Linked DNA regions of Homo sapiens. The protein of the gene in region 2 binds, or shares a complex with, the protein of the main gene of each other region. Each region holds a gene or a part of one and is shown on either strand. Other genes may lie near its edges.

Region 1 (7,024 bases), on a different chromosome or scaffold from region 2:
GTGAGCCACAGCACTCAGCCTGGTTCTGCTAGTCTTTAATTACAAAAGTAACATGAGCTGAACCCAGAAAATTAAACCATACAGACGCACACAAAACATGAAGAAAAAATGTCCTATAATGCCATGCTACTAAGATGTATATAGTTCTCTCTATATATACTATAGTGCATACAAATACATTTTAATATTCTTCTATAAATTTCAGGGACTTTGTAGGACTCTAGTCAACAAATACATTTCTTAGCCAACCCCTCTTTTGGACACATAGTTTGTTTTCCCTAGTTTGAATAGGGCTATGATGACTATCCTTGTACATAAATCTTTGCTGACATTGTCTTTTGTGTTTTTTTGAGATGGAGTCTCTCTGTCACTCAGGCTGGAGTGCAGTAGCGTGATCTTGGCTCACTGCAACCTCCACCTCTCGGGTTTGAGCAATTTTCCTGCCTCAGCCTCCTAAGTAGCTGGGTCTACAGGCGTGCACTACCACGCCGGGCTAATTTTTGTATTTTTAGTAGGGACAGGGTTTCACCATGTTGGCCAGGCTGGTCTCGAACTCCTGACCTCAGGTGATTTGCCCACCTCGGCCTCCCAAAGTGTTGGGATTACAGGTGTGAGCCACCGGGCCTGGCCACATTTTCTTGAGAATAAATTCTCCAAAGTGAAATTTCTGGATCAATTTGCATTTGTGTTAGTCCATTTGTACTGCTATAACAAAATACCTTAGATTAGGTAATTTATAAAAACCAGAAATTTATTTCTTACAGCTCTGGCAGCAGAGACATCCAAGATCAAGGCACCAGCAGGACTGGTGTCTGATGACAGCCCTGTCTCCGCTTCCAAGATGGTGCCTTGTTGTTGCATCCTATGGCTGTGTCCTCACATGGAGGAAGGGAAGGAAGGGGCAAAAAAAAAAAAAAGGCAAATTCCCTGTGTCAAGTCCTTTTATAAGGGTGCTAACCCCATTCATGAGGGTAGAGTCTTCATGACTCAATCGTCTCCTAAAGGCCACACTGCTTAACGCTGTTACATTGACGATTAAGTTTCAACATGAATTCTGGAGGAGACACATTCAAACCATAGCAGCATATGTGCAATTTAAATAGTTTTGTGTGTGTGTAAATGGACATGCTGTCCTTCAGAAAGTGAGTACCCATTTTGGCCAACATGATAGGTCCAAAATGATATATTAGGCTGGGCGTGGTGGCTCACTCCTGTAATCCCAGCACTTTGGGAAGCCAAGGCGGGCAGATCACTTGAGGCCAGGAGTTCGAGGCCAGCCTGGCCAACATGGTGAAACCCCATCTCTACTAAAAATACAAAATTAGCATGGTGTGGTGGTGCACGCCTATAATCCCAGCTACTCAGGAGGCTGAGGCACAAATTGCTCCTGAATCCCTTGAATCCGGGTGGTGGAGGTTGCAGTGAGCCGAGATCAGGCAACTGCACTCCAGCCTGGGCAACAGAGTGAGACTCTGTCTCAAAAAACAAAACAAAACAAAACAAAATGATACACCAGTGTGGCTTTAATGTTCTTTTCTTTGGTTGCCGATGAGGTTGAAAATTCTTTTTATGCTTAAAAAGAATTGGCCATTGGATTGCCACTTTTGTGAACTGTGTATTTATAACTTTATTCCCCATTTATATTGGGGTTTTCAACCATTTCTCCTTGATTGATAAAAACACTTTTGAAAGTTAACAATATCAACTCTTTGTCATATAGGTTACAACTGTTTTACAATACACAATTTATATTTTTGACAACAGATTTTTAAATATAAATGTAAACATAAATATATATATATATATACGTATAAGTCTATCAATCTTTGTTGTGTGATTCTAACTTTGAGGTCATGCCTCAATACTGACTGATCCTTTAGTGCTATTTTTAGTTTCATTTGTTATTTTAAATACTTTATATAATTTAAGATCTGAATTATGATCTAACTCTGCATTCTCCAAGTGGCTACTCATTTATTCCAACACAATTAGTTGTTATAGTCTATCTCTTTCTCCACTAAGTTGACATGGTAACATCATTTCTTTCAATGTAATATAAATATCCAGTCCCCCCAATTTGCTTATATTAATATTTATTAAACACTGGCTATGGGTGCAAATATTCTTCTAACCTTGTTTTTCCTAGTCCTTCCTTCTCAACTCCTTTCTTCTCACGGGATCTAGTACATCTCAGATTTGTTTCATTGCCCTCAAAAGCATCTGGGATCTGCTGTGTTGAGCAGGCCTGATGTAGGCTAAAAAAAAGAACAGAAGTCTTGTGAGGTGCCTTTTTGACCATAGCTAATCCTGGGAACCAGTGTGAGGTCAAATTTCCAATTAGATTTAAGGAAGCTGAAAAGGGAAGAAAATTACCATCTCACATCAGTCAGAATGGCTATTATAACATCAAAAAATAACAGATGCTGGTGAGGTTGAGGAGAAAAGCGAACACTTATACACTGTTGGTGGGAGTGTAAATTAGTTCAACCATTGTGGAAAGCAGTGTGACAATTGCTCCAAGAGCTAAAAGCAGAACTACCATTCGAGCCAGCAATCTCATTACTGGGTATATACCCAAAGGAATATGAATCCTTCCACAATAAAGATACATGCCTGGATCATGCCTGTAATCCTAGCACTTTGGGAGGCCGAGGCGGGTGGGTCATTTGAGGTCAGGAGTTCAAGACCAGCCTGATCAACATGGTGAAACCTCATCTCTACTAAAAGAAAAACACAAAAAATTAACTGGGCGTGGTGGCACACACCTGTAATTCCAGCTCCTCAGGAGGCTGAGACACAAAAATTGCTTGAACCCGCAAGGAGAAGGTTGCAGTGAGCCAAGATCACGCCACTGCACTCCAGCCTGGGGAACAGCAAGACTCCATCTCAAAAAACAAACAAACAAACAAACACATGCATGTGAGTGTTCATTGCAGCACTGTCACAATAGCAAAGACATGGAATCAGCCTAAATGTCCATCAATGACAGATTGGATAAAGGAAATGTGGTACATATACAGCATGGAATAGTATGCAGTCGAAAAAGAATGAGATCACATATTTTGTGGGAACATGGGTGGAGATGGAGGCCATTATTCTTAGCGAGCTAACGCAGGAACAGAAAACCAAACACCACATATTCTTACTGATAAGTGGGAGCTAAATGATGAGAACATGTTGGCTTAGTGCCTGGGTGACAAAATTATCTACAACAAACACTCGTGATATGAGTTTACCTATATAACAAACCTGCACATGTACTCCTGAACCTAAAATTAAAAAAAATTGAAAATTGAATTTAGAAGCTAATCAACTATTGAAATACTGAAGTCCATTTCAGTCTGATGATTTAAGAGTTTATCTGTCATTACCTGATAGACAACGAATCCTATAGCAACCATTTATATTAAAACTCTGGCTTTGTTAGAAAACTATTTTCCTTTGTTTTTAAAATTTGAAGATGGAAAACAATCATTACATGTATTTTCCTGCACTAGGAAGCATAATGGCCCAATTACAAAAAAAAATTCATTTTACCTTTAAAGTGTATGAAATTTCTTGGTTTTATTTTTTAAAATGGAAACTAGACTTTTTCCCCCAGATTCTTTTTTTTTTGTGATGGAGTCTCGCTTCTGTCGCCCATCCTGGAGTGCAATGATGGGATCTTGGCTCACTGCAACCTCCGCCACCTAGGTTCGAGTGATTCTCCTGCCTCAGCCTCTGGAATAGCTGAGACTACAGGTGCCTGCCACCACACCCCGCTAATTTTTGTATTTTTAGTAGAGACAAGGTTTCACCATGTTGGCCAGGCTGGTCTGATTCTTAAAGAAATACATACTTATTGTAATATTTCACATCATATTGAATAGAATTGATAAAGTAAAAATTATACCAATTCCTACAGTTATCAACATTTGGGTACATATCCTTCCAGACTTTTTCCTTTGAGTACATGCAAACACATGTACATTCTCTCCCTTTAAAAGACAATCATATAAACTATACTGAAACCTTCTAATTATTTAACAATATATCATGGACCATTTGCACTTAAAAGTTGAGATCCACGCCACTATTTTATTTTTTTTTTAATAATTTCAACTTTTTTTTTTTTGTGAGAGACAGAGTCTTGTTCTGTCACCTAGGCTGGAGTGCAGTGGCACAATCTTGGCTCACTGCATCCTCCACCTCCCAGGTTTGAGTGATTCTCCTGCCTCAGCTTCCCAAGCAGCTGGAACTACAGGTATGCGCCACCATGCCCAGCTAATTTTGGTATTTTTTAGTAGAGACAGGGTTTCACTATATGTTGGCCAGGCCGGTCTCGAACTCCTGACTTCAGGCGATCCACCTGCCTTGGCCTCCCAAATTGTTGGGATTACAGGTGTGAGTCACTGCACCACGCCAGTTTCAACTTTTAGATTTAGAGGGTACGTGTGCAGGTTTGCTGCATGGGTACACTGCATGGTGCTGGTGTTTGGGGTATGACTGATCCCATCACCCAGGTAGTGAGCATGGTACCAAATAGTTTTTCAACCGTTGCCCTCCTCTCATAGTCCCCCGTGTCTGTTGTTGCTATCTTTACGTCTGTGAGTACCCAATGTTTAGCTCTCACTCATAAGTAAGAATATGCGGTAGTGGGTTTTCCATTCCTGTGTTAATTTGCTAGGGATGGGATAATGCATGCCACTATCTTTAATGACTTCATGGTATTCTGTTTTATGGTGTTTGTTTGTTTGTTTTTGAGATGGACTCTCGCTCTGTCATCCAGGCTGGAGTGCAGTGGTGCGATCTCAGTTCACTGCACCCTCAGCCTCCCAGGTTCAAGCAATTCTCCTGCCTGTCTCCAGAGTAGCTGGGGTTACAGGCACATGCTACCACCCCCACTTAATTTTTGTAGTTTTAGTAGAGATGAGGTTTCACCATGTTGGCCGGGCTGGTCTCAAACTCCTGGCCTCAAGTGATCAACCCACCTTGGCCTCCCAAAGTGCTAGGATTATAGGCGTGAGCTACTGTGCCTGGCCAGTTTCATTATTTTTATTAATTAACAAAAATTATATATATTTATGGTGTACAACGTGATTTTTAAAAATATGTATACATTGTGGAATTAAGTCAAGCTAATTGACTATGTGTTATCTTCTATACTTTTTGTGATGAGAACATTAAAATCTACTTGGTAGGCAATTTTCAAATATACAGTGTATTGTTATTAACTATAGCCATTGAGCTGAGCATGATGGCTCATGCCTGTAATCCCAGCTCTTTGGGAGGTTGAGGCAGGAGGATTGCTTGAGGCCAGGAGTTCGAGACTAGCCTGGGCAACATAGCAAGACCCCATCTCTATAAAAAATAAATAACTAATTTTTAAAAAAACTATAGTCATCATGTGTTACAATAGATGTCTTGTACTTATTCCTCCTGTCTCACTGAAATTTTGTATCCTTTGACCAACTCCCCAGTCTGCCTCTGCCTAGTTACCACCATTCTACTTTCTGCTTCTAGGAGACTTTTCTTTTAGACGGAGTCTCACTCTGTCACCAGGCTGGAGTGAAGTGGCACGATCTTGGCTCACTGCAACCTCCGCCTCCCGGATTCAAGCAATTCTCCTGCCTCAGCCCTCCCAAGTAGCTGGGACTACAGGCACGTGCCACCACACCCAGCTAATTTTTGTATTTTCAGTAGAGATGGGGTTTCACCATGGTGGCCAGGATGGTTTCAATCTCTTGACCTCGTGATCTGCCCACCTCAGCCTCCCGAAGTGCTGGGATTACAGGCATGAGCCACTGCGCCCAGCCTCTAGGAGACTTTTTTAGATTCCACATTTAAGTGAGATCATGTGGTATTCGTCTTTCTGTGCCTGTCTTATTTCACTTAACATACTGTCCTCCAGGCTCATCCATGTTGTCGAAAATGACAGGATCCGTTTGTTTCTTAAGACTGGATAGTATTCCATTGTGTGGAGCCACCATGTTTTCTTTATCCATTCTTCCACTGATGGACACAGATTAATGCCATAATATATGTAATCAGTTGACTATTCATGTTGCTTAATTTGAACCCACTCTTTTTCCTGTTATAAGTAAGTTTGGGAGGAACATTCCTGCTCATTCATCTTTGCACAAAGATCTTATATTTCCTTAGGACAAATTCCTAAATGTAGAATTGTAGATTCAAAAGAGTGCCTCATTTTAAAGGCTTTTTGTGTGTATTGTGCCAGGAAATTTGAACCACTTTCTGCTTCTTCCAGCAGTATTTCTTTCCCCATACTCCTGCCAAAACCAAGTATTACTATTCTTTTTAATCGTTGCCTATCTGATTGGCAAAAGGCAGAGTATTGTTTCAATTTGCATTTCTTTGACTATTAGTGAGTCCAAATATTTCTTTTTATGCAGAAAAACGTTTTTGAAAGAATAGTTGAGAACTTCACAAAAAATCAACTTCAGGAGGAAAAATTGGAATGTAACAGATGCTCAGGGTAATTTAAGCAAATTGCCTACTTAGTGACAGTAGTGCTAAGCCAGCTTTAAAAACTATTGCCCAAATGCACTGATCTACCAAAAATCAAGGGAAAAATGGGTTATTTTAAAATCTCTTCAGTGAGTTTCTCTTTTGGGGAAAAGGGAAATAGAAAAAAACAACACTAGACTGAGCTTAGCCCACGAAAACCGTAGAGCATCAATGTTGAACTCAGATTATCAAACGACAGGACTAGTTTTCCACCCAGGCAGTTGTATGCAATGGTTCTATCAAGAAATGTGAACAATGACAAGTATGGAATTTAAAAGGACTCCATGCAACTTGTCTGTAGAAAATATTTCCATTTAAATTGTACATCAATTTGGAAATGTGTCTGTAAGTAGAAGTTTTGCAAGTTTTTTGTTTTGTTTTGTTTTGTTTTTGAGACGGAGTCTTGCTCTGTTGCCTGGGCTGGAGTGCAGTGGTGTGATCTCAGCTCACTGCAAGCTCCGCCTCCTGGGTTCACGCCATTCTCCTGCCTCAGCCTCCCGAGTAGCTGGGACTACAG
Region 2 (6,985 bases):
GCACCCCTCGACGGCTATCCGTCCCCACCGTGAGTGAGGTGCACCCCTCAACGGCCACCTGTCCCCGCCCTAAGTGAGGTGCACCCCTCGACGGCCACCCGTCCCTGCTGTGAGTGAGGTGCACCCCTCAACGGCCACCCGTCCCCGCCGTGAGTGAGGTGCACCCCTCAACGGCCACCCGTCCCCGCCGTGAGTGGGGTGCACCCCTCGACGGCCATCCGTCCACTCGCTCATTCAGTTGTTGGGGGGCTACAGGGGCTGCACAGCTCTAGGCGTTGGGATTCAGAGATCACAAGAGACAAATCTCTGCCTGGTGGTGCCTGTCCTGGCAGGACTTATAACAACAGACAAAAAGGACTTTATAAAGCCAGGAGGTGGCAGGTGCTCCACAGAAAAATAATGCAGGTACTTGGGGATGCAGCCAGCAGAATCTCAGGTGAGGAAAGACAATCCATTTTCTTTTCTCTGTTTTTTTTTTTTTTTGGTTTTTGTTTTTGTTTTTTGGTTTTTGGGTTTTTTTGGATACAGTCTCGCTCTGTCGTCACCCAGGCTGGAGTACAGTGGTGTGATCTCGGCTCACTGCAACCTCTGCCTCCCAGGTTCAAGCGATTCTCCTGCCTCGGCCTCTGCCCACCTCGGCCTCCCAAAGTGCTGGGATTACAGGTGCCTGCCACCATGCCCAGCTAATTTTTGTATTTTTAGTAGAGACGGGGTTTCACCATTTTGGCCACATTGGTCTCGAACTCTTGACCTCAGGTGATCTACCCGCCTCGGCCTCCCAAAGTGCTGGGATTCCAGGTGTGAGCCACGGCGCCCAGCCAGGACTCTTCTTTTTAGAACATAACCACAATGTCGTTGTCACACCTGGGAAAAGCGGTCACTTTCTACCTCAAATGTCCAGGATGCCACATTCCCCGTGGTCTCTGAAGGGTTTTTTAACAATTGTTTGTTTGAATCAGGGCCCACATTATGGACCTGGTTGGTAATTCTCCTGAGTTTCTGTTCATCTGTACCTTTCCCTTTCTCCCATCTTTTTTCCTGGAGATTTATTTGTGAAGAAACTGGATTGTCAGCCGGGCACGGTGGCTCACACCTGTAATCCCAGCACTTTGGGAGGCCGAGGCGGGCAGATCACCTGAGGTCAGGAGTTTGAGACCAGCCTGACCAACATGGAGAAACCCCGTCGCTACTAAAAATACAAAAATTAGCCGGCCGTGGTGGCGCATGCTTGTAATCCCAGCTACTCAAGAGGCTGAGGCAGGAGAATCGCTTGGACCCGGGAGGCGGAAGTTGCAGTGAGCCGAGATCGCTCCACTGCACGCCAGCCTGGGTGACAGAGTGAGACTCTGTCTCAAAAAAGAGTCTCTCTCTTTCAGAGACATATCCCAAGATATGTGCAGGTGACGTGCCGTGGTGCATGGAGGGCACAGAGCCTGCTGTGTGCTGGTAGGTGAGGGGGCCTGTGCTGGCCTCAGGATTCTGCAATTTTCCTTAATAAAGCCGAAAAAAATGCCGCCGGTCAAGAAGCAGGATGTTGGGGGAGCGGGGCTGGGATGCAACAGGGCATAGGGTGGTTGGGATTTCTCTGAAGACTGCAGTCCTGAGCCGGTGAGGGAGGGGCGTGCCTGGCGGGAGCCCTGAGGCTGCAGTGGAGCCTCTGCACAGTATGTCTGGGTTTGACTCGGTGAGAAAGGAGCCGTGGAGGGCTGGGGTGGGCTGGGCAGCCTTGGTTTACAACATCCACAGGGGCTGTTCTGCCACGTGGAGTGGACTGGGGCCAGCAAAGGGCAACAGGGAAGCCGGTGGGCCAGCTGGAAGTTTCCCAAAATGAGTGCTGGTGTCCCGGCCCTGATGGGACTGGAGGTGGACAGACTCTGGATTTCTGGGTCGAGCTGGGGCACAGCCAACAGATTTACCAGTGGGGGGCTGTGGGGGACACGTGGGGAGGGAGGGCGAGTGGGAACCAAGGTGGTCCCCGTGACTGGCAGGATAAAGGTGCCTCCCTTGTGGATGGTTGAGGGAGTGGGTGGGAGTCTTGGGCACACTGGATGGGGTGTCTGCTGGACAAGGGGTCAGTGACGGGGACTCCACAGCTCAGGGCAGAGTCTGGACTGGAGGAAATGTGGGCATCACCCTCGGGGGGGTGGAATTTGAAACCACACCCTAGCTGACGTCATCAAAGACTGGTCCTGGACCGGCAGGGCAGAGCCCAGCAGAGGTGGCCGGGTGGGGCGGGGAGAGCGGGGCGGGGACTCACCAATGTGCCTCCGCTCTGACACAGCAGCTGAGCCTCAAGCAGTGACTTCTCCTGTGGATGTAGACAGGTCTGCAGTCACCGTCCTGCCCCACAGGTGGGGAGACTGAGGCCAAGTGGGCAGGCGCTGGCCCAGGGTCCCCATCATCAGTGGTCAGTGCTGAGGGTGTGGGCCCAGGCAGCTTCATCCCGAAATGGCCCAGCCTTCTAGGGCAGGCACCACCAAGCATGGGTGTCAGTGGATGCCCGCAGGCATAGAACTCCTAGGCCCCCAAGGGAGGTGTGGCCTGAGGATGCAGGTGCCCTTCTCCCGGGACCCCCATATCCCGCCCGCCTGCCGCCCACACCTCGTAATCAGGAGTCACGTTGAGAAACAGCTGGTTTCCCTGGATCCGAAATGCAAAGGGGGTGGACAAGGCTCCGAGGGTCACCTCCTGGCCCTCCGGGACGTGGATGTCCACCAGCGGCTCGGTGACATTTGTGTTCTCCTCTACTTCAAAGATGTCCTTGTTCACAGAGCAGTCTGTAAGGTTGCAGAGGAGGGATCAGTGCCTCCCAGCCCCTGGCTCCCCGCCGCCCGTGCCCCACCTACCCCTGCCCGCACATACACTGGGCCTGGGCCATGGTCCCCGGGGGTCGGACGAGCAGCCCGGTGAACAGCAGGGGAGGCCACAGCAGGGCCCAAGACCCCATCTTGGCGGCTGTCACCTGGCAGGAGGGTCTGAGCGGGTCTGGCGTCTAGGACTGGCGCAGTTCCTACCTCAGCGACCTTCGCCCCAGCCAGACGCCGCCCAGTTTATGATCCTTTACGACCGGCTTCTGCCAAGGGGGCTCCCGCTGGCCGGCTGGTCCAGCCCACTGCCAGAAGGAGGGGCAGTCGTTTGGCCCAAGTTGGACTGAGTGCAGGGGTCAACCAGGGGGCTCAGGTCACAGGCACCGAGGCACAGGGCAGAAGGGACTGGAGAGCGGCTCATGGGTGCCGTGGGGGTAGGGGCAGGGCAGGGGCAGGGCTAGGGTGTGGGAGAGAAGCTGGGGGCTGGGGGCGGGGGCTCGGCCCTTGGTGTCGGGGTGTCTGGAACCTGCCTCCCTAGCCCAGGCTGCCCTGGCTTGGCTCCTCCCCTAAGATCTCCCTCAGGCAAAGTTCCTAAGGCCACCCCTTGAGGCTCAGAACCCGGGTGTTCCCCAGGGAGCACCTCCCTCCCTGCCTGACAGCAGGTTCTGAAGGAAAAGGCTCTCCTCACTGTGTCCTGGGGACACCCCTGCCTGCCCCAGAGACAAGTCGGCTTCTCAGGGCGGGGCTGGACAGGGCCTTAGTGACTGAGGCTAAGGCGGGGCTGTGAGGGGCAGCTGGGAGTTCCTGGGGGGCCCTGGTGCCCGACAGAGGGGGTGAGGTGAGACTCGACACTTGCCCTGCTCTTTTCATTGGCCCCCCAGAAGCCCCCAGCTCTAGGGAGAGGCCACTGGGTAGGGTCGGGGCGAGGAAGTGGCTGTCGTGAGGGGTAGGTGGAGTTCTCCTCCTCCAGGCCTGTGCGCCGAAGCTTCTGGCCTCTCATGGCTGGGGCTGGGCTCAGTGTCCTAACCCTGCACGGTGCCCTCATGGTCGCCTTCAAGCCCTGCACGCTCCGTGCTCCACAGGCTCTGAGGGGTCAAGCCACTGGTCCGAGGCCACACGAGACAGAGGGTCCGGAGTCCTCACGCCAGAGTGGATTCCTGGCACCCCAGGTGACACCTCCACCCTCCCCTCTTCCTGCCCGCCTGAGCCCCCCTGGCCCCTTCACACCCTCCCCACTACCCCTTACAGAAACACTGACCACATGGGCCCCCGGGCAGGAGCTGAGAGGGTGTCCGGGATCCCCCGAGCCCCAGAATGTTTCCTAATGGATGACAAGGGGTGGGGCGGGGCCCTGCAGTACTTAGTCGAGGTACAGGAGGTGGCCCTGATGCCAGAGATAAGGATGAGGGGCCGCCGTGCCTGCAGGTGTAAAGGGCAGCTGGGTGTGGTCAGTCCCTCCTGGGTGGATGGGCCTCCATCCATCCCTCAGCCCCGCTACACAGGGGTTGCCTCGATTACACTGAGTGGACACAGACAACTCCCAGCGTCTGGGTCTGATTCCTCCTTTATTGGTGCCAAGTACCACCCCTCCCCCTCTCCCCCATCCTGCCCCCCACCCCAAATGCAGCTGCGCTCCTGGGCCGGGCAGGTGGTGAGGGGGTTCCTTCCTCATCTGGGCCGCAAGGTTCCTTCTGCAGCAGCGCCAGCTGGTTCTGAAACCATAGGCCCAGGGGGCAGCCAGGGAGACCAGGTCCCGTCCAGGGGCATCCTGCAGAGACAGCACGTGAGGGTCTGAGGGCTGGGGCTGGAGACCCCGGCCCCGCTGCTGGAATTGGGCCTCCAGTGGCCACCAGCGCTGACCCGGGGAGGCCAGGACAGAAGGAGGGGTCTGGGGTGGGGTCTGGAGTGGGGTCTGCGGTGGGGCGGGTGCTCACCAGGCCTGCAGGATGGGCATGTTGGACCCTGACGGGCAGAGCAGACCCGCGCTGAGCCTGGTCCAGGCCATGCTGTTCTCTGCGTCCTGCTCGCTGCCCCCCGCCCCAAAACAGAGTTAGTCCTGGAGCTGGGGGGTCGCGCGTTGCTGCTGGGGCACCACGCCAGGACCCCCCACCCCACCCGGCCTCACCTGCGCTTCCCCACCAGGCCCTGTAGCAGCCGCTGGAGCCGCGCGCCCTCCCGCAGGCGGCTGAGCTCGCTGGTGAACGTCCCGTCTGAGTGTCGCCGGGCCCTGCGGGCGGTCGGGGGTCGGGGTCAGGGCGCACTGGGGGCGGGTGGGGCCCGGGGGGCGGGCGGGCCTGGCGGGCGGCTCACCTGGGGGGCGCGGGGCGCGCGGCGGAGCCCCCGAGGAGCAGCAGCAGCAGCAGGAGGGGCCGGGGGGCCATGGCGGGGTCGGGGCGCAGGAGCTGAGCGCTGCGGCCACGGCCCCGGGCCCCCGCAAGGCCCCTTTATGGCGGCGCCCGGAAAGGGGACGGCCCGGCCGCGCCCAGCGATCCCGGGAAGGTCAGGGCCGCCCCCCCAGCTGTCGCCCCGGCCCGGCCTCCCGCCCCCTCCGCCGCGCTGGCGCCCCTCGGCCGGCTGGGGGAGGGGGACGTCCCGGCCTGGGGGGCGAACGGAGCGCGGGCCTGGGACCCGCAGAGGGAACCGCACCGCGAAGCCTCGGAGCCTGCGGGGGCGGAGGGGCCGGAGGGCTTGGGGGAGGGTTTGGGGGGGGACTGGGGGGCCCCGGGGAAGGGGCTGCGGCCGGAGTTCCGGAGGCCCCTGGAGCACCTTGCTGGGGCGAGTTCGTCTCCAGCTTCAGCGTGGCGTGACTGTTGGGGGGCCGGTGTTGCCATTTTATCTGCTTTGAAGTGCGCGATTCAGGATCATTCGGTGCATCCATCCCCACCATCCGTTCTCAGACTTTCCCGTCCTCCCAAAATCCGTTCACAGACGCTCCCGTCCTCCCAAAATCCGTTCACAGACGCTCCCGTCCTCCCAAAATCCGTTCACAGACGCTCCCGTCCTCCCAAAATCGTTCACAGACGCTCCCGTCCTCCCAAAATCGTTCACAGACGCTCCCGTCCTCCCAAAATCGTTCACAGACGCTCCCGTCCTCCCAAAATCCGTTCTCAGACTCTTCCGTCCTCCAAAAATCCATTCTCAGACTCTTCCGTCCTCCCAAAATCCGTTCTCAGACTCTCCCGTCCTCTCAAAATCTGTTCACAGACGCTCCCGTCCTCCCAAAATCCGTTCACAGACGCTCCCGTCCTCCCAAAATCCGTTCACAGACGCTCCCGTCCTCCCAAAATCCGTTCTCAGACTCTCCTGTCCTCCCAGAATGAAGCTCTGTCCCCATCAAACGCCCCCTCCCCTCCTCAGCCCCGGCGCCCCGTCCACTTTCTGTCTGTGGATTCAGCGCTTCCAGGGACTGCGCGCAGGGGGAGCCTCACGGGATTTGTCCTTTGGAGACCGGCTGGATTCTCAGCGCAGCATCCTCCGCCTTCGCCGCCGCGGCCTGGCCTGTGTGGGAATCTCCTTCCCTTTTGTGGGGAACTGTGTCCCGCTGTGTGCAGGGACCGCATCGACCGCGTCCGCTCATCTGTGGGCATCTTGATGGACACCTGGGCTGCCTCCCCTTTGGGGCGACGGCGAGTAACGCTGCTGTGAACGTGGGTGTGCAAACGGCGCTTCCCGATCCCGTTTTCAAGCGTTCTTGGTGTATAGTTATGAGGGAATTGCTGGGTGACAGAGTAATTATGTGTTAAATATTCTGAGGAAACGCCAAACTGTCTTCCCAGCAGCGCAGCAGGGACACGGTTCTTGTCCTCGCCAACACTTGCTACTTTGTGGCTTTTTGTTTGTCGCGTACTAACGATGCCGGTGGGTGCGACGTGGTGTCTCGCTGCGGTTTTGATTGGCATCTCCCTAATGGCCAGCGATGTGGAGCATGTTCTCAAGTGTCTGTGAGCCATTTATACATCATGGAGTGGACGGAGAAATGGCCGTCAAGCCCTTTGATGTTCTGCTGTGGTTGCGAGTCATGCACTGTATCCGTCTGTTAAATCAGCCACAATATTTTCCCCAGCGTTTGCATCATTTCACAGCCCCGCCAGCAATGTGGGGCTGGCTGGCTGGCTGGCTTGCTGGCTTGCTTGCTTTTCTTTCTTTCTTTCTTTCTTTCTTTCTTTCTTTCTTTCTTT
Region 3 (7,024 bases), on a different chromosome or scaffold from region 2:
TTGGTCCTCACAAAGAAGCAGGGGCTGCTGGCCTCTGAGAACTGGACCCTCGGCCAGAACGACAGGACAGGCAAGACGGGGCTGGTGCCCATGGCCTGCCTCTACACCATCCCCACGGTCACTAAGCCCTCGGCACAGCTGCTGGTAACTGGCACGCTCCCCTGTCCTCAGCCTGGGTACCCGAGGTCAGGGTGGAGCAGTCCTGGGATGCCTAGTTGGGAGGCCTAGCTCAGGGCCTGCAGCCCACCTAGCAGAGGCCAGGAGGGCCACCCGGGCAGCCCCCACCATTCCTGCGGCAAGGTGTGTGTGCAGTGCCAGCCCAGCTCTTGGTACTTAGTAGGTCCTCAATAAATGGGTGTTCCCTCCCTCTTCCATCATGGGGGTGTCCGGGGGACAAACCCAATCTTTCTCTGCCTCATTTACACTCTGACCCAGGGGGACTCAAGTCTCTCCCTGCACAAGGGAACCACCCACCCCAGCCCCCAAGACCAGCCTCTCCGGAGGCAGGAATGGCAGGCATTGCAACATGTACATACTGAGTGCTGAGTATGTGCCCTGTGCCTGTGGTACGAGTCTGGGCATAATAGCAGCTCCACCCTCAGGGCAGACATTTGGGCAGATAATGACACATGGATGGCAACTGTGCAAAGTGCCACCAAGGAGAGGAACAAATAATAGGGTGGGGAACTTACCCTGTCTGGGAAGGCATCCCCGAGGGAGGGACATTTGTGCTGAGGCCTGAAGTTGGTGGCAGACTAGGCAGGCAGGGCTGGGGTGAGAGGTGGCCCCATGGAGAAGGGGAGCTGGGGAGCTGGGGGTCTGAGAAACCCAGAGTGCCGTGGCCCCCAGAACGGGTGATGTGGGTGCCACAGCCATTGGCACTCACCCTCCCAAGGGAAAGGAGACAGGCACCAAGAGGTAGAGTCATGGTCCTGGGTCACACGGCAGGTGACAGGGGTGTGGGTAAGCCCTGGCCTGTTCAGCCCTGGGCCTGACCCCTCCCAAGTCACTGAGGCTGCCAGGCCGGGAGGAGCCTGCAGGAAGGGCCTCATGGGCGGTGGCTCCTGGGCACCCACAGGCCTGTGCCCCCTTCAGAGCTTGCTTGCCATGTCACCAGAGAAGAGGAAGCTGGCGGCTCAGGAGGGGCAGTTCACAGAGCCACGTCCTGAGGAGCCACCCAAGGAAAAGCTGCACACCCTGGAGGAGTTCTCCTATGAGTTCTTCAGGTGCCCCCCAGCCCCGCTCCGCCTCATTGCACCCCCACCTCCCAGCCCCACCTCACCTCATTGCACCCCCTGCTCCCAGCCCCGCTCCACCTCATTGCACCCACTGAGAGCTGCAGAGAGGCCACGCCACCCATGTGGAGCCTGCCTGGCCTTCCCAGGCCAGGGGAGTCAGGAGGGGCTTGCGGCAGGGTGGGGTGCTCTGGCCCTCCCACAGCCACTCAGGGGTGTCAGAGGACAGAGAAGCGTGGGACAGAGAAGGCCACAGGGCAGGCCTCACACCAGCCTCTAACCTCACAGGGCTCCAGAGAAGGACATGGTGAGCATGGCCGTGCTGCCCCTGGCCCGTGCCCGTGGCCACCTGTGGGCCTATTCCTGCGAGCCGCTGCGACAGCCGCTGCTCAAGCGAGTCCACGCCAACGTCGACCTCTGGGACATCGCCTGCCAGATCTTTGTCGATATCCTTCCCCACCAGCCTGCCTGCACCTCGTCAATGCCAGGGCAGAGGCACCCAGCACATCCTGGCCCTACAGCTGTGCTCTAGGGCAGGAGAGCCCAGGAGATCTGAGAAACCTGGAGTGGCGGGACAGAGCCCACACATGGCTCACCGCAGGGCCGGGGTCGGGGTCAGCGTCTATCCCCAGTCTGTGTCAGCGTGGGGCTGCCCCAGCACTGTGCTCCTTGACAGCCACACCCATCCTCCGGTACATGGGCGACTACCCTTCTCGGCAGGCCTGGCCCACCCTGGAGCTCACCGACCAGATCTTCACACTGGCCCTGCAGCACCCGGCCCTCCAGGACGAGGTCTACTGCCAGATCCTGAAGCAGCTGACGCACAACTCCAACAGGTCTGCTGGGGCGGCGGCCAGCCCACGCGGGCACCCTCAGTCCTCATCCCGGCCCCTGAGGCCAGACCGAGGCTCAGAGAGGACACCGCAGCTGGTGGCGGCAGAACCCCTGCCTGGGCTCCTGCCTCAGCAGTGGGAAGGGTTGGGCCCTTGGTCTGCTCTGCTGATGTCCTAGGGGTGGTCAGAGCAGGAGAGGATGGCCCTGCCCACTCCCACCCTCTGTGTGTGACCTGGCAGGCCATGACCTCTCTGAGCTTCAGTGTCGTCTTCCACAAAATGGGTGCAATGCCCACCCGCCCCCATCTTGAGGGTGTGAAAGCCCGTGGCATCGGGCAGCCTGGCACAGCTGGCATGGTGCAGCCTGGCAGGTGCCCTCCCCCTCGGGCCCTCTAGACCCCAGGCAGCTCTCACATCCGTCCCTGCTCCCCAAGGTGCCTGCCTGGCCAGGGCCCCCTGAGGGGCCTTTCCCGGCTGACAAGTGCTACCCTTCAGGCACAGCGAAGAGCGGGGCTGGCAGCTGCTGTGGCTGTGCACGGGCCTCTTCCCGCCCAGCAAGGGGCTGCTGCCCCATGCCCAGAAGTTTATAGACACTCGGAGGGGGAAGCTGCTGGCCCCCGACTGCAGCCGCCGAATCCAGAAGGTCCTGAGGTGAGCCCAGTGCCTCCAGCCCCCAGCATTGGCCCTGGGCCCGCAGACCTGGGATGCTGTGGGGCCTGGCCAGCCTTCCAGGAGCTCATGGTCCTGGGAGGACTCTCCAGAAGCCAGTGTCAGCTTGGCAGGCAGGATTGGGCCCCGAGCTGCCAGAGAAGAGGGTGGAGGGTGAGGCCCAGGAGGGTCAAGAGAAGGCTCAGTCATAGCCACCAGCTCCCCTGCCCCACCACTGCCCAGCAGTGGCACAGAGGCACTGCCTGAGGGATAGAGAGAAACCTGGATGCCCCAGCCCAGGCCCTCAAGGCTGAGGTCAGAGGCCCATCCTTCCAAGTCCATGCGGCCTCCCTCATCCGCCCACAGCCGTGAAGCTCTTCCTTGGCCGTCTTTGCTCTCCCCCACCCCTCCTGCCTCCTCTGGCTTGGCCTCCTGTGGCCGTGAGGAGGGCAGGTTGACTGTAGGAGTGGCCATAATTTCAGTGGCAGCCGTGGTCACAGAGAGAGGTGGGCGCCCCATAGAGGCCCTGCCAGAGTCCCTGGCCCCTGCCCGATGCCCCTGTTGTGCGAGAATAAGAATACTGCCAGCCTTTCCTGCCGGCGCCTTCCCGGGAGCCCCTGGCCTGGCCCTTCCCCGTGTGTGCCCCAGGCTTTCAGGCACAGCTGCACCATCACTACCTCTGAGGCCGCGTGGAGCCAGGGGCAGCCCCCAGGACATGCGAGGGGCTGGAACCACCCCAGTGATGGTCACTGGGGTTTTCTTTTGTTTCTGGCACATGGTTTAGGGCCCACATCGGGGCTGGGGCATGGGTGAGGATGAGGGTGGGGGTGGCACCTGCAGCACACGCTGTCCCCCTCAGGACGGGGCCCCGGAAGCAGCCCCCGCACCAGGTGGAGGTGGAGGCCGCAGAGCAGAACGTCTCCCGCATCTGCCACAAGATCTACTTCCCCAATGACACCAGTGAGGTGAGGCCCTGCTCTGGTCTGCACGGCAAGTCTCAGGCCTCCAGAGGCCATGGGGCATCCTCCTTCCTGGCCCAGCCTGCTCCTTGGTAACCCCAGAGAGCCTTTTCTAGGGCTGTCCCATCCTAACCAGTCTCCCGCCCTCTCCCCATGGGATGCAGGCCCCACCTGCCCTTGGGTGCTTTGGAAGTCAGGCCAGTCCCAAGGTATGAGTTGGGGGATCCAGGCCCAGGACACAGGAGAGGACAGAGGGGTGGGCAGCAAGGGTGAGTCCCAGGACTTGGGGGCCCCTAGGGGCTTCTGACCATCTGGGGTGCAGGAGAGCAGGTATTCCCACTGTGTGTGCCTTGTGCACAGAGCCTGCCATGGCTGCTGGGGGAACAAAGGGGCCAGGGGGCAGGTAGGAGACCACCAGGACCCCACCGTGACACAGAGGCCTTGATCAGGGGCAGCAAAGACAAGCGGGCTGAGAGGCCAAAGTGGGCAGTGTCGCCTCGCGCCCTCTCCAACAGCACAATGGTCTTTTTGGCCTTGATATTCGGGTCCCGGTAACAGGAAGTTCCCACAGTCTGGCTGCTGGGCTCTCAAGGCGAGTCAAAAGGCCAGGCCTGCAGGGCCCCAGGACAGCGAATGCTGGGACTAAACAACATGAACCTCTGGCCAGGGTTCTGGAAGGGAGGCTTGCCCTGCTCAGGGCAGACCACATCCAACCCAAGTTTCATGAAGGAGCAAAAGTGCCAGGCTAGGAAGGCTCATCCTGGGCTGTACTGGCCCCTAGCCAGGCCCCGGGCCTCACCAGCTGCCTCTCTGTCCAGATGCTGGAGGTGGTTGCCAACACACGGGTGCGGGATGTGTGTGACAGCATTGCCACCAGGCTGCAGCTGGCCTCCTGGGAGGGCTGCAGCCTCTTCATCAAGATTTCAGACAAGGTGGGCCGGGCTGGGGCTGGGCAGACGGTGGGCGGACGGGCAGTGAGCGAGGCCCTAGGTGCTGCCTGTGGGGGCCTCAGCCTACCAGGGGCACCCATGCTGGACCAGGCTGCACGGCCAGGGCTGCTGGGACAGAGGTAGGTGGGGTCCTGGAGCAGAGCCAGCTCCACACGCCAATAGCCCACGCACAGCCGACTCCAGCGCAGCACCCAGGCCGTAGGCGGCCACTGGACCAGAACCCAGCAGGTTCTCAGGAGGACAGTCCCCGGAAGCCACCCAACTTCCCTGTACCTTCCCCTTCCCCAGGTCATCAGCCAGAAGGAGGGAGACTTCTTCTTTGATTCCTTGAGGGAGGTGTCTGACTGGGTGAAGAAGAACAAGCCCCAGAAAGAAGGTGAGGAGGCCTCTGTGGAGCTGGGGGAGGGCGTGGCTGGGTGGGTCGAGGGGGCACTGGCGGCCTCTGTGCGGCCCATGCCCATTCATCCATCCATTCGTTCCCGTGTGTCCCTGGGTTGTGGGAACAACCAGGCCCTGGGGCCCGGCGGTGAGGGCCAGCTCAGGCAGAAACAGGTGGCTGCACCTTGGAGTGATGAAGGATGCCCCAGGGCTGAGGGGCATGACCCTCATGGGCTGGGAGTGCGAGTCCAGGAATGTTCCTGGAGAAGGCAGCCTCTACACTAATATTGAAGGAAAATGTGGGGACTGGGGAGGAAGAAGCGTGGGGGCTTTCGAGGCAGGGAGGTGGCAGGCGCAGTGTGGGGGGTGGCAGGGGGTCAGGGCTGGTGTACCTGCTGGGACAGGCTTGGTGCCCACTGCTGGCCCTCGCCCAGGGGCCCCCGTGACGCTCCCCTACCAGGTGTACTTCATGCGGAAATTGTGGCTCAACATATCTCCAGGGAAGGATGTGAATGCAGACACCATACTCCATTACCACCAGGTACCGGGCAGGCTGCCCTGGTGGGCACTGGGGCCACCCCCATCTTCCCACACCTGTTCTGAGGCTGTAGAAGCCAGCAGGCCAGGGCAGGGCCAGCCTCAGCCCTGGGTACCAGCCCATGTGGTAGGCAGACCAAGCCCCTGAGGGCTCTGGAACCAGGAGCAGAGGGCAGCAATGTTTGGGGACAGTGACTGCACTGGCACCTGCAGCATGACTTGGAGAGGGTGGGACAGAGGGTCCTGTGACCCATGGAGCAGTGGCCGTGGCCTGCAGGGCCAACCACATGGGTGGAGCAGGCCATCACCTCCACGCAGATGTCAGGGGGCCCTGCCCTGACTCAGGGTCATTCCCCTGGCCTGAAACTCTCTACCCTGCTCAGTCCGTCCTGGATGGAGTGGGCTAAGCCCCAGTTCCCCACCATCTGAGCGGGAAAGAGGTTGGGGGCGGGTGGGCCGCAGCTGGAGACCCAGCATGCCCAGTGTGTCCATCACCCAGGAGCTGCCCAAGTACCTGCGCGGATTCCACAAGTGTTCGCGGGAGGATGCCATCCACCTGGCGGGCCTCATCTACAAGGCCCAGTTCAACAACGACCGGTCCCAGCTGGCTAGTGTCCCCAAGATCCTGAGGGAACTGGTGCCTGAGAACCTCACACGCCTGATGTCCTCGGAGGAGTGGAAAAAGGTCCCTGGTCGGGCTGGGGAAGGGTTCTTGTGCTGCTGCTCCTCCCTGGGCCCCTGCACCAGTGCCATGCCCTGCCTGGGCTCCAAGATCACATGGGTGCACATGGGTGGTGTGGAGGGTGGGCTGGCTCTGCACACACCACGCCTTCCTATGCCATCCACAGCACCGAGACTGTCCCATGCTGCATTCCTCCCCTCCCCTCCCCACCGTACTAGCCCTGGGGTAGGCAGGTGCTGCCCCCACCAGGGCTTTGGAGGGCCTCTGGGCACCCAAGTCCTTACTGGCCCTCCTGTCCCCCAGAGCATCCTTCTAGCCTATGACAAGCATAAGGACAAGACAGTGGAGGAGGCCAAGGTGGCCTTCCTGAAGTGGATCTGCCGGTGGCCCACCTTCGGATCCGCCTTCTTCGAGGTGAAGGTAAACCTTGCCCCACGCCAGGGCCTCCTACCCAAGCAGGCTCCGCTCAGCCCAGCCCCAGCAGGCCCAGCGTCAACCAGCACACATCTTGGGTGGGGCTGGCCGTGAGGCTGGAGGGCGTGGGTGTATGTGTGTATGTGCGTGTGGCCTAGATGAGCTCCTGGGAGGTGCAGCCTGGCCTCCCGGGCTGGACTATGACCGCCGTGTCCCTCCCTCCCAGCAAACCTCGGAGCCTTCCTACCCGGACGTCATCCTCATCGCCATCAACCGACATGGGGTTCTGCTCATCCACCCCAAGACCAAGGTAGCTGCTGGGCCTCCGGAGGGGCTGGGGGCCACCAGGTCCAGGGACCTGTGCAGGTGGGGCTGCAGTCATCTCTGC
Region 4 (7,024 bases), on a different chromosome or scaffold from region 2:
GAGTTCGAAACCAGCCTGGCCAACATAGTGAAACCCCATCTCTACTAAAATTACAAAAATTAGCTGGGTGTGGTGGTGCATGCCTGTAATCCCAGCTACTTGGGAGGCTGAGGCAGGAGAATCACTTGAATCCAGGAATTGGAAGCTGCAGTGAGCTGAGATCATGGCACTGCACTCCACTCTGGGCAACAGAGTGAGACTCCACCTCAAAAAAAAAAAAAAAGAAAGAAAGAAAGAAAAAAAAGAAAACAAAACAAAACAAAAGAAGGGCCAGACGTGGTGGCTCACGCCTGTATGTAATCCCAGCACTTTGGGAAGCTGAGGCAGGTGGATCACCTGAGGTTAGGAGTTCAAGACCAGCCTGGCCAACATGGTGAAACCCCATCTCTACTAAAAAATACAAAAAATTAGCCTGGTGTGGTGGTGGGTGCCTGTAATCCCAGCTACTTAGGAGGCTGAGGCAGGAGAATCACTTGAACCCAGGAGAAGGAGTTTGCAGTGAGCAAGAGAGATCGCACCATTGCACTCCAGCCTGGGCAACAAGAGCGAAACTGTATGAAAGAAAAAAGAAAAAAGAAAAAATATGTATATAGCACTGAAGTAGTCATTATGGGAAAATGAGAATCTTGCTGGACTTCACACTTATGAGTTTAAAACTTTCTTTGTCTACAATTTCCTGCCCCCATATCCCCCTTCCTGCTAGAATATCAGTAGCAAAAGGGCCTGTCTTGATGATGGCTCTATTCTTTCTTTGCACCTGGAACGGGGCTGGGCACGTAGGTCCACAGTGGCCGTTTGTGAGATGAAAGAATGGCCTCAGTGCTGAAGATCTCAGAAGCTCTTGCAAACTGCTGACCTGAGCCTCTTAGATGGGAAACTGGGGCTGGGAGATGGGCCCAGGGGCTCCAGGCCTGATGACTGCCTGCGTGGGCCAGCGCTGGAGAGGAGGGTCCGGCTGCATCGGAGGGGCTGGGGGCTGGGAATGCCGATGGCCGATGACCAACCCCTGCTTACGTGCACAGGCCCACGACAATGATGAGCCGGGCACCAACAACAGCCGTCTGCTCTTCAACCTGCTGCCTGGCCCCTACAGCCACAACTTCTCCTTGGACCCTGACACAGGGCTCCTCAGAAACCTGGGGCCCCTGGACAGAGAGGCCATCGACCCCGCCCTGGAGGGCCGCATTGTGCTGACAGTGCTTGTGTCTGACTGCGGCGAGCCTGTCCTCGGCACCAAAGTCAATGTCACCATCACTGTGGAGGTAAGGCCTCGCTTAGCCAGGATGGGCCTGGGGGCCTCCCAAGCCGATAGCCAGCCCCTCCAGCTTGAGTCACACTTCTGCCCTCTGCAGCCAGCCTGCCTGGGTTACAATCCCGCTCACTCGTATGGCCCCAGGCAATTACTCAACCTCCCTAGGCACTCAGGCTCCTCATCTATAAAACGGGGGTGAAAAAGGTTAAAGATTAAGTGAGTTAATGAATGGAAAGTGCTTGGTAGAGTGCCTGACCTATAGACAGTATCAGTGAATATCAGCTCTAATTGTCACTCATAAAGTCCCACCTGAAACCCTCCTGTCTCCCTGCCACCATTGAAAAGCAAAGGGAAGGGGTGAAAATCAGCATTGCTGGTGTCTATTGCACATCAGGGCATCCGCCAAGGTTGGGATGGTTATTACCATTTTGTTTTTATTTATTTATCTATTGATTTATTTATTTTTGAGACAGGGTCTCCCTTTGTCACCCAGGCTGCAGTGCAATAGTGCCATCATGGCTCACTGCAGACTCAACCTCCCAGGCTCAAGCGATCCTCCTGCCTCAGCCTCCTGAGTAGTTGGGACTATAGGCATATGCCACCATGCCTGGTTAATTTTTTTATTTTTGTAGAGATGGGGTTTTTCCATGTTGCCCAGGCTGGTCTTGAACTCCCGAGCTCAAGCGATCCACCCGCCTTGGCCTCCTAAGTAGCTAAGACTAAAGATGCGTGCCACCATGCCTGGCTAATTTGGCTAATTTTTAAAATTTATTTTTCATAGAATCAGAGTCTCACTTATTGTCCAGGCCAATTTTGAACTGTTGGCCTCAAGCGACCCTCTCAACTCAGCCTCACAAAATGCTGGGATTACAGGCATAAGTCACTGAGCCCGGTTTATTACCGTTTTATTGATTGAGCAACTGAGGCGGGCCTAGTTGCTGTGGCTCATGCCAAAAACCTCAGTACTTTGGGAGGCCAAGGTGAGAGGATTGCTTGAGCCCAGGAGTTTGAGACTGGGCTGGGCAACATAGCGAGACCCCATCTCTACTAAAATAAAAAATTAGCCAGGCATGGTGGCATGTACCTGAAGTCCCAGCTACTTGGAAGGCTGAGGCAGGTGGATCATTTCAGCCCAGGAGGTTGAGGCTGCGGTGAGCTATGATCATGCCACTGCAATCCAGCCTGTGAGACAGAGCAAGACCCTGTCTCAAAAAAAGAAACTGAGGCACAGAGAGGTTCAGTACCTTGCCTGGGGGTCACAAAATTGGGTTTTGACTTCAATCAGTCTGGTTCTAAGGCTGCCACCAGCCCACAAGGCACCTTCCTCTGGAACAGTATTGTGACAAATGTGCACCTCTGCCGTGTCTGTGATGTGGATGGCACCCCATAGGGTTGTGCAGTGCACAGCCTGCACCACTGCACATAGCAGCCCTGTGTCCCCTGGACTGGGATGTGCCATTTTCACACAAGGGTCAGAGAGTGAGACCTCAGAAATGAAGAAAACGAAGCAGAATGAGGACTTGCTGGTTGTCCTTAGGGTGGGAGGGCTGCAAAGAGAGAACTTCATTTCCTGAGTGAACAGGTTTCTTCACCCCTGTGAGCCGTCCTCACAATTGCCCTATTAGTGGGGACTACTACCCCATTTTGCAGATGAGGACACTGAGGTCCAGAGAGGTCAAGGTCACACATGAGGCAGAGGTGGAGCAAGATGTGACTCAGTGCTCTTATCCACTCCTGTGAGTTAGGGTGACCTTGAGAATGCAGCTGGTCTTGTGCGTGGAGCCAATGATGTCATCGCTGGGAAATTAGCAGCAGAAAAGACATCTAGCTAAGGTGCAAGAATGTTGTCTTCCAAATGTTCATTCTAGGGTTATTCAGAAAAACAAACACCTGTTATGTGACCCACAAACCTGGGAAGGGCTGGAGTGCTCAGGGCATCCCCCAAGCACATGCCAGTGTTAGGAGACATAGGGGAGGGCAGAGTCACCTCCAGGCTGTGACAATAGTTGCAGGGCTCCAGCTGTGCCCAGTGGGCTAGGGCTGGCCACAGAGGTGAGAGCCAAAAACAGCTGGTGTCTGAGGCAGGAGCAGGTCTAAGCTTCTGCAGGTCCCCGGAGCCCAGCTCTGACTGAGCACAGAGCTGGTGTTGTGGGCTCAGTTGTGTGCAGGAGGGACAGGGGTAGGAGGGGACAAGGGAAAGTGTGGGCCTTGGAGCCTTTGTGGACATATAATGGTATTGGTGCCAACACAATAAATCCGAGAGATGGGAGTCAAGCTGGGCCAGGCAGGGTCGCAGGTGGGGACCCAGAACTGTGCTTCTAGAAAGCAGGGTCTAGAACAAGTCCTGAGCTGTGGTCAGAGAAACAGGAAGCAAGCAGGGCTTCCTGAGGATGGATGTGTAAGGCCAAGGTCCCACTGTAGGTCCCTGAACCCCGGGTGTGTGACCTGGGCAAGTTCCCTCCTCTCAGAGCCTGTCTCCTCATCTGGGAAGTGGGCAGTGAGGTCTGAGGCACTAGTAGAGTCCATGCCTTGGAGCACAGGGATTATTGGTTTCTCGGATTGGCTCTGGGGAGGGTGAGATTGGATCCCGGGGACTCAGACCTGTCTCTGACTGCAGGACATCAATGATAACCTGCCCATCTTCAATCAGTCCAGCTACAACTTTACGGTGAAGGAGGAGGATCCAGGTATGTGCTCCCTGGGCCAGGAGAGACACTGCGGCTGGGACCCAGTGTGGCTTTGTCAGGGTGGACCTCGAGTTCCAAGAGAGGCAAGGGCAGAGGAGGCTTCCGATGGCGGGGTCAGGAGTCCTTCTGAGCTCTGCCCCTTGTCCACAGGAGTGCTAGTGGGCGTGGTGAAGGCCTGGGACGCGGACCAGACGGAAGCCAACAACCGCATCAGCTTCAGCCTGTCGGGGAGTGGTGCCAACTACTTCATGATCCGAGGCTTGGTGCTGGGGGCTGGGTGGGCTGAGGGCTACCTCCGGCTGCCCCCGGACGTGAGCCTGGATTACGAGACACAGCCCGTCTTCAACTTGACAGTGAGTGCTGAGAACCCAGACCCCCAGGGGGGTGAGACCATAGTAGACGTCTGCGTGAATGTGAAAGACGTGAACGACAATCCCCCCACCCTGGATGTAGCCTCACTCCGGGGCATCCGTGTGGCTGAGAATGGCTCACAGCACGGCCAGGTGGCTGTGGTGGTTGCCTCGGATGTGGACACCAGTGCCCAGCTGGAGATACAGCTTGTGAACATTCTCTGCACCAAGGCCGGGGTCGATGTGGGCAGCCTATGCTGGGGCTGGTTCTCAGTGGCGGCCAACGGCTCTGTGTACATCAACCAGAGCAAAGCCATCGACTACGAGGCCTGTGACCTGGTCACGCTGGTTGTGCGGGCCTGTGACCTAGCCACGGACCCCGGCTTCCAGGCCTACAGCAACAATGGTAAGGCAGCCTGTCCTTGCAGGGCTTGGCAGGCCATAGCTTAGGGGCCGCGGGAAGGAGCCCTGGGCTGGAACTCACAAGGTCTGGGCTCAGATCTTGGCTCCAGCCCTTTCCAGCTGCAAATACTGGGAAAGTCCCAAACCCTCTCCAAGCTTCAGTTTCCCCATCTGTCCAGTGGAGTTGGGCAGTGGGGTGGGCTGTGAAGATTCAATGAGAATATGGATGTATGGCATTTATTGCAGTGCCTGGCATGCAGTAGCATCAAATTAATGCCATTATTTTACAAGATGCTGTGAAAGAAAGATAACACTGCAGAGCTAGATGTGTGCTTGTATCCCACTTCTGACACCAAATAGCAATAATAATCACATTAACAACTAGCATATATTGAGTCCTTATGACAGCCAAGAACTACACCAGGCACCTTGTAAGAATTTTTCCACTTCCACACAACCCATGGGGTAGGTGTTCCCTATCCAATTTTATAGATGAGGAAACTGAGGCAGAAAGTGGGTATTTAAACAACCAGCTTATATAGTTAGAATGTGTCAGTATAATGTCATAGGTGAGATCTACCTAGGCTGGGCCCAATCCTGGCCCACCACTATTGCTGTGTGACTTTGACAAGCTGCTTATCTGCTCTGAGGTCTGGGATGATACTCCCACCCACACAGGCCAGAGAAGACCGATCAGGCATTCTGGGTCAGGAGCAGGGAAGGGGACTGAGCATGGGGGAACACATGGGAGAGAAGCTGCGGGGCATGGGGTTGAGGCTGCGGGGCACGGGGTTGAGGCTGCGGGGCACAGGGTTGAGGCTGCGGGGCACGGGGTTGAGGCTGCGGGGCATGGGGTTGAGGCTGTGGGGCACAGGGTTGAGGCCCAGGCTCTTTGGGTCAAGCTTTTGCCCAGAGCCAAAGCCAGCTGACCTTGTCTCCTAGGAAGCCTCCTCATTACCATTGAGGACGTGAATGACAATGCACCCTATTTTCTGCCTGAGAATAAGACTTTTGGTAAGCAGCAACCCCATTCACACACCATACCCCTGCTCCATAAGGCCGCCTTTGAGCAACCCCGACAGACCCTCCTTGGACCCCAGGGGGAGCCTTTAGAAAGGGGGGAAGGCCTCTAATCCTGCATCTTCCTAGGGCTGCAATAGGAGAGGACATTGGAGTTTTCTTTTTTCTTTCCTTTTTTTCTTGAGACGGAGTCTTGCTCTGTCGCCCAGGCTGGAGCGCAATGGTACGATCTCAGCTCACTGCAACCTCCGCCTCCCAGGTTCAAGCAATTCTCATGCCTTAGCCTCCAGAGTAGCTGGGGCTACAGGCATGCGCCACCACACCTGGCTAATTTTTGTATTTTTAGTAGAGACAGGGTTTCATTGTGTTGGCCAGACTGGTCTTGAACTCCTGGCCTCAAGTGATCTGCTCGCCTTGGCCTCCCAAAGTGCTGGGATTATAGGCATGAGCCACCATGCCCAGCCAACACTGGAGTTTTCATTCCAGCTCTGTCCGACCTAATGTCTGGCCCTGGGCCAGGACTTCCCTCTCTGGGCCTCCATTTCCGCATGGTCCTGTGGGCCTGTGACCTCACCTGTGACAATGGGAGGTGGATGACTTGCTAACTACTGGCCCAGTGGTGGCTGTAATAGGGGTCTCTTTTGGTAGAGAGGTTGAGGGCAGGTTTAGGGGGATGAGCCCTGAGCTGGGCTCGTGACCAGCCTTGGTCCAGGTGGGCAGTGTCCCGACCCCGCTGACCCCGTTCCCGTTCACACCTGCAGTGATCATCCCTGAACTCGTGCTGCCCAACCGGGAGGTGGCTTCTGTCCGGGTAAGTTCTTGGCTCCAGCCTTTGTTGGTCATATGAGCCCCAGGGGACACAGGGCTGAGGCCTTCAGGCCTTCCATGGTAGAAAGAAAATATATGGGCTCCAACACATGAAAAAGAAAACCCCAGAAGGGAAACCAACACCTGTCTAATCAATGTAATCAAACTTCACTGTGATAAATGTAGCATTCATAAAAATGTCATGACCGTAAATACCACTTGCAGTCCAGATATTTCTTACTATACCAGAATTCTTGAGTAATACAGAGAACTCATAGCTAATTGTAAATTAAGCCAGTGCCTTGTCATTAAATAATTCTCAGAGCCAGCTGGGCACGGTGGCTCAAGCCTGTAATCCCAGCACTTTGGGAGGCCAAGGCAGGTGGATCACCTGAGGTCGGGAGTCTGCGACCAGCCTGACCAACATGCAGAAACCCCATCTCTACTAAAAAATACAAAATTAGCTGGGTGTGGTGGTGCATGCCTGTAATCCCAGCTACTTGGGA

What was found.
Region 1: CDHR5 (region 2) and ANKS4B share a complex: the UniProt entries of both Homo sapiens proteins name them as parts of the IMAC/intermicrovillar adhesion complex.
Region 3: CDHR5 (region 2) and MYO7B share a complex: the UniProt entries of both Homo sapiens proteins name them as parts of the IMAC/intermicrovillar adhesion complex.
Region 4: CDHR5 (region 2) and CDHR2 share a complex: the UniProt entries of both Homo sapiens proteins name them as parts of the IMAC/intermicrovillar adhesion complex.

Annotation. Positions count from the first base shown.
Region 1 is NC_000016.10:21,236,691-21,243,714, forward strand, and holds part of ANKS4B (ankyrin repeat and SAM domain-containing protein 4B), read left to right. Parts: intron 1-7,024. UniProt on the Homo sapiens protein: As part of the intermicrovillar adhesion complex/IMAC plays a role in epithelial brush border differentiation, controlling microvilli organization and length. Plays a role in assembly of the complex.
Region 2 is NC_000011.10:621,956-628,940, forward strand, and holds the start of CDHR5 (cadherin-related family member 5 isoform 1 precursor), read right to left. Parts: upstream 3,001-6,985; 5' UTR 2,948-3,000; coding exon 2,863-2,947; intron 2,778-2,862; coding exon 2,602-2,777; intron 2,309-2,601; coding exon 2,258-2,308; intron 1-2,257. Other genes in the region: SCT (secretin preproprotein), read right to left, coding at 4,476-4,575, 4,742-4,834, 4,933-5,034, 5,118-5,188. UniProt on the Homo sapiens protein: Intermicrovillar adhesion molecule that forms, via its extracellular domain, calcium-dependent heterophilic complexes with CDHR2 on adjacent microvilli. Thereby, controls the packing of microvilli at the apical membrane of epithelial cells.
Region 3 is NC_000002.12:127,629,683-127,636,706, forward strand, and holds part of MYO7B (unconventional myosin-VIIb), read left to right. Parts: coding exon 1-144; intron 145-692; exon of another isoform or gene 693-1,095; coding exon 1,096-1,226; intron 1,227-1,523; coding exon 1,524-1,681; intron 1,682-1,917; coding exon 1,918-2,071; intron 2,072-2,563; coding exon 2,564-2,719; intron 2,720-3,575; coding exon 3,576-3,681; intron 3,682-4,493; coding exon 4,494-4,607; intron 4,608-4,913; coding exon 4,914-5,001; intron 5,002-5,437; coding exon 5,438-5,544; intron 5,545-6,039; coding exon 6,040-6,225; intron 6,226-6,525; coding exon 6,526-6,642; intron 6,643-6,862; coding exon 6,863-6,946; intron 6,947-7,024. UniProt on the Homo sapiens protein: Myosins are actin-based motor molecules with ATPase activity. Their highly divergent tails are presumed to bind to membranous compartments, which would be moved relative to actin filaments.
Region 4 is NC_000005.10:176,580,321-176,587,344, forward strand, and holds part of CDHR2 (cadherin-related family member 2 precursor), read left to right. Parts: intron 1-1,022; coding exon 1,023-1,262; intron 1,263-3,869; coding exon 3,870-3,939; intron 3,940-4,089; coding exon 4,090-4,695; intron 4,696-5,633; coding exon 5,634-5,705; intron 5,706-6,472; coding exon 6,473-6,522; intron 6,523-7,024. UniProt on the Homo sapiens protein: Intermicrovillar adhesion molecule that forms, via its extracellular domain, calcium-dependent heterophilic complexes with CDHR5 on adjacent microvilli. Thereby, controls the packing of microvilli at the apical membrane of epithelial cells.